2 separate regions of the Homo sapiens genome follow, and region 2 is linked to region 1. The links come from fine-mapping of genetic effects on gene expression. Tissue or cell type: unexposed skin. Region 1 holds a variant in brackets; the other region holds the start of a gene. All regions are shown on one strand. Distances are between the middles of the regions.

Region 1 (2,849 bases):
CTTTCCTTTCACAGATATCAGATCAGCATCCAGATCTGAAGGCTTTCTTTACCCAATCCTCCATCCTCCTTTTTTATCTCTCATAGGTGTACATCCCCATCACCATTCCACCCCCTACACTTCTTGCACTTCCAACTTTATTTCAGTGTCTGCTTCCTGAAGGACCCAAAACTACACAACTCTAAATAGAAAAGCTGGATGTATCTATCAAGGAATCTTATTCTCTTAGAACCAACTATGCCTAGAATAGCCGTTTGTACATTGTGAGTCTTTTTTTTTTTGGGTGGTGGGGACAGAGTTTCGCTCTTGTTGCCCGGGCTGGAGTGCAGTGGCACAATCTAGGCTGACTGCCATCTCCACCTCCCAGGTTCAAGCAATTCTCCTGCCTCAGCCTCCCATGTAGCTGGGATTACAGACATCCACCACCAAGCCCAGCTAATTTTTTGTAATTTTGGTAGACACAGGGTTTCACCACGTTGGCCAGGCTGGTGTCAAACTCCTGATTTCAGGTGATCCGCCCGCCTCGGCCTCCCCACGTGCTGGGATTATAGGCGTGAACGACCGTGCCCAGCCCATTGTGGGTCTTTAGTGTTAAATATAAAAACGCTTTGGAAATATGTGGGAAGTTACACCCTACAAAATTTACATAAGTAAAAAATTAATAGTATTGAGGCCAGGCGAGCTGGCTCACACCTGTAATCTTAGCACTTTGGGAGGCCGAGGCAGACAGATCACTTGAGGTCAGGAGTTTGAGACCAGCCTGGCCAACATGATGAAACCTTGTCTCTACTAAAAATAAAAAAATTAGCTGGAAATCCCTGGAACCCAGGAGGCGGAGGTTGCAGTGAGCTGAGATCATGCCACTACATTCCAGCCTGGGCAACAGAAAGAGACTCTGTCTCAAAAATAAATAAATAAATAAATAAATAAATAAAAAATAAATAAATAAATAAAAAATAATAGCATTGAATTAATTGTGTCTAGAATTAAAGAAGATATTTTAAGTTTAATTATTTCATGCACTAGAAAATGAAGAAATGTGATGATTTATGCATTGAGAAAAACACCAAGGTCACTGTAGATATGGATGTTTTATACATGCTGAAATCTTTTCTCTGATGTAACTTGAGATTAAAGAAGAGACTAAAGTAGCTATTTGGACATTTCTCTATTTAGAGGAACCAATTTTTTTTCTCAAACAGATATCTTCATCTCACAACTGAAAGTCATAATGGGATAGATGGGCAGGACAGAGCAGTTCTCTGAGAGAAGAGCTGCAGCTAGAGTTTAGCAACTATGAGAGACAGAACATGCACTAAAGATACGACCTTCAGATAACAAAGATTCTTAAAATTTCTTTTGAATATTCTTTATGTCTTCTTTTCATGAGACACT[G/T]ACGCAAAAACAGAAAGACACTCTTGTCATAGCGGTGTTGAAAACATATATATAAAGAACTGTCACATGGTATACCAACTCAAATTCAGAATATAACGGAAACGCTACATGACAGACCATCTTACACTATCAGCCCAACATAACCACTCTTCCTGTTTTGTTTGATGGGGGAAGTTATAATGTAATGCCAGAGGTATATTTTATGTGTGTGTATTAGGCTGTGGAAGATTGGTTGACTGGCTTTTGGTCACTGAGTTTCAGATATTCAGTTCTAGAATAATTTGGGAATAAAATTGCTATCCTATAGTAGTTTTGAGCTATTAAGAACTATTTGGTTGAAGGTCTGATATCTTATTCCATTTTTAACTGCTACTCAACACAAGATTTTCCTTTTGAAGTAGGTCTTGGTAGAGGTTGAAGCATTTCCACGATATAATTTCGAATTATTGCCTCTCATAGTCCACCCCAGCATGACCTCTTTCCTGCCAGTTTCCTCTTTTTTTTTTTTTTTTTTCTGAGTCTTACTCTGTCACCCAGGCTGGAGGGCAGTGGTGCAATCTTGGTTCTCTGCAACCTCCACCTCCTGGGTTCAAGTGATTCTCCTGCCTCAGCCTCCCGAGTAGCTGGGACTACAGGCACGTGCCACCATGCCTGGCTAATATTTTGTTTTTTTTCGTTTTTTTTTTTTTTTTTTTTTTTGAGACGGAGTCTTGCTCTGTTACCCAGGCTAGAGTGCAGGGGCGCGATCTCTGCTCACTGCAAGCTCCGCCTCCTGGGTTCAGGCCATTCTCCTGCCTCAGCCTTCCGAGTAGCTGGGGCTACAGGCGCCTGCCACCACGCCCAGCTAATTTTTTGTATTTTTAGTAGAGAAGGGTTTTCACCGTGTTAGCCAGGATGGTCTCGATCTCCTGACCTCGGGATCCGCCCGCCTTGGACTCCCAAAGTGCTGGGATTACAGGCGTGAGCCACTACGCCCAGCCGCCTGGCTAATATTTTGTACGATTTTTAGTAGAGACGGGGTTTCACTGTGTTAGCCAGGATGGTCTCAACTTCTTGACCTGGTGATCCACCCTCCTCGGCCTCCCAAAGCGCTGGGATTACAGGCGTGAACCACCGTGCCTGGCCCAGTTTCCTATATTATACATCCTCTTTCCCAAATTATTTTCTTCCTTACTTTACAAATTCTCAACTTTCTACTTTTTTTCTCTGAACTTCCACGTCTTTTCCACAACCCTCTACTCCCAACTGAGGGTGTTGCCTACTTCTCCGGGAAAATAGAGACTACCAGAAATAGCTTATCTTTTGATTCCCAAATCTTTTTTTTTTTCATCCTTTTTTTTCCCTCACTCTGTCGCTCAGGCTGGAGTGCAGTGGCATGATCTTGGCTTACTGCATCCTCTGCCTCCCAGGTTCAAGCGATTCTTGTGCCTCAGCCTCCCGAGGAGCTGAGACTA
Region 2 (2,643 bases), 120 kb before region 1:
CACCCTTCTATAGAGGTAAAATTGCCTTGCTGAGAAAATTCTTTGAGCGCTAGTTCTTCTTTTTGGCACCAAAGAACCAGCATTTGTTTCTAAGAGAGCCTTATTGTCAAAGGAAATTAAGAAAAAGCATTACACTTATTCATACATGTGCATATATGTACATATACATATTGCAGAAAAGTATGATAGGGTGAGCAAAAAAAAAAAAAAAACCCTCAAGCAAAACAATGGGGTAATTCGGTGGGAAAAGTGAAATGAAAATCAAATTCAAAGAGGAAAAGAAATGAGTAAAATTTCCCATTGTTGAAGAGTTTTATTTTAAATGAAGATGGTGGATGTTAAATCACTACCCTATTTATATTCCATTGCATAAATCTCAGAGTGACTTAATATTTTCATTTATAAATATCAATATTTTCAACAAGCCAGACATTACAAACTTGGCAACTACTTAAACTTAGGATGAAACAAAAATTAGATAACAATTTCATTCTTTTAAGAGCTACAAAGAGGTCTAAAAAAAGGTTTGACCTCTGAAAAATTAACCTTAAACCATCTAAGTGTCCTTCCTAAAACTCAAGTCAAGCCCAGGTAGCTTCAGTGGCAAGCAACGAGACCACTAGTTAAAAGACCCTCTTCTTTTCCTACCCAACTTCAACATTCCCCCGTGCCGCTTACTCCCGCACCCAGCAGCCGCCCACTTCTGGTCCTCAGCAGTCCCCTGACCCCTCCTCTCCCGCTCCCCCACTTCCCTCCCCATTCCCGTACTTCCGCCCGTCCAAGTCCTCGGGCGCATGCGCGTTTCGCCTCCCTCCCCGCCGCCGCTGCTGTGTCATGGCGGAGCGGAAGTCCCAGCCACAACGGGAAAAGGCATACTTTAGGTGGGAGGCGCTTCTCACAGCTTTCTCCCCTTCCTCCCATAACCTTTTTGATCTCCCACCGTAGAGGGGCCTCCTACCCTGCACTCTTCCGAACACCTCGTAGTCCACGGATTTGAGTGACTGGGCGGTAGACATGGCGGCGGCGAGCCCTCTGTTGAGGAGCCGGAGAGGGGCTCGGGGCGCAGCGACTGCGGCGGCTGCGAGAGGGAGGGGACACATGGGACTGCTTGGCGCACCCCGCGCCTGTCACCGGTCCCGGACGCTAGCGCGCCGGGGTCACGCGTCGGAAGCGGCAAATGAGACTGCGGGGCCTGGGAGCGAGGGCAGCCGGGGACGCCAGGAGGGAAGAGGCCGCTGGGCCCCAGGCATCCTAGGCCTCTCTTCCCGGACTGGGGAGGATGCTGTCTCCACAGCGCTCCCTACCATTTAATTGATCAAGGTACTCTGTTCTCAAAGTTAGTAAATAAAAGCCGGATGCTGTGCCCAAAAAAAGAGTGGCTTCCCCCAGCTTTATTAAAGTGTAATTGACAAATAAAAGTTGGGTATATTTGTGGTGTACAAGGTGATGTTTTGACATATGTATGCATTGTGAAATGATTACATCAATGAAATTAACGTATCCATTGCACCATTTTTTAATGAAGAGAACATTTAAGATCTACTCTCATCAATTTTTAAGGACACAATACATTTATCGCAGTCACCATGTTAGACAACAGATCTTCAGAACTTATTATTCACACTAACTGAAACTTTGTACCCTTTGACCAATATCTCCCCATTTCCAACCCCTTTCATCCCCCATCCCAGGTCCCCCACCCCACTCCATCCCAGCAAGATTGGCTTTTGAAATCAAGGGCCTGCGTGTTTAGTGTTTTGAGAGTTAGTAAATTATTTATGAAATGTTTAGGTGACTACCAAGCCAGCTTTTAAGATAAGGTCTGCAACATCTTGAGCTCTTCTGTACAGTCAGGAAGGAATTGAGCCTGAACTCGTATTCTAAACGGATTGTGATATTTTCTGGGATAAGAAACTTTTTAAAAATATGAAGTCTTTTATGCTAGTGGAAACAGACAAAAGAAAAACACTGTAGTCATCTTGTCTGCTGTTCATACAGTTTTTTTGGTGTGGGTTTGTTGCTGTTGTTTTGAGACGGAGTTTCGCTCTTGTCTCCCAGACTGGAGTGCAGTAGTGCAATCTCAGCTCACAGCAGCCTCCACCTCCCAGGTTCAAGAAATTGTCCTGCCTCAGCCTTCCAAGTAGCTGGGATTACAGGCATGCGCCACCTCACCCAGCTAATTTTTGTATTTTTAGTGGAGACGGGGTTTCACCATGTTGTCCAGGCTAGTCTCAAACTCCTGACCTCAGGTGATCCACCTGCCTCGGCCTCCCAAAGTGCTGGGATTACAGGTGTGAGCCACCACACCCGACCTTTTTTTTTTTTTTTTTTTTTGATTGTCTTGATTATTCTCAGCAACATCCCAATTGCCTAGAAGGTTAAGGCTGAATTTTATTTCCTGGTGAGCTATTACCAAGTTTTAATATAAAACCATCCACCACTCCAAAGGATCTGGATACAGCTATTGATAATCTGCCACCTTCTAGAATTCCAAATCTGTTTACTTGTGAGAATTTGCATTTCTCTATTTGTTGGCCTCAATACCTTGGCATATTTCTCTGCATCTGGCCACACAGTTAAAATAATCCACTGCAATCTGATTCAATATACTGTGCCAATTCTATTAGAGAACACCAAAAATCA

Alleles and levels. Alleles are on the strand shown, and positions count from the first base shown. SD is a standard deviation of normalised expression in the study named.
For the expression in unexposed skin of the gene that starts at base 1,100 in region 2, allele G in region 1 goes with a higher level than allele T (small effect, 0.30 SD a copy in GTEx).

Evidence for each region. PIP is the estimated chance that this variant, and not a neighbour inherited with it, causes the effect.
Region 2: ACYP2 starts here. The variant in region 1 is fine-mapped to the expression of ACYP2 in unexposed skin (GTEx, PIP above 0.99).

Annotation. Positions count from the first base shown.
Region 1 is chr2:53,993,575-53,996,423 of GRCh38, reverse strand. It overlaps a transcript of ACYP2 not described here. Among named protein-coding and RNA genes, the nearest start is that of PSME4, 24 kb to the right of the region's middle. The variant G/T (reference allele first, on the strand shown) is at 1,396.
Region 2 is chr2:54,114,072-54,116,714 of GRCh38, reverse strand. ACYP2 (acylphosphatase 2) reads right to left here and starts at 1,100. Exons shown (of 4, transcript NM_138448.4): 1 at 959-1,100. The coding sequence starts at 1,016. RefSeq lists silencers at 652-711, 1,202-1,271.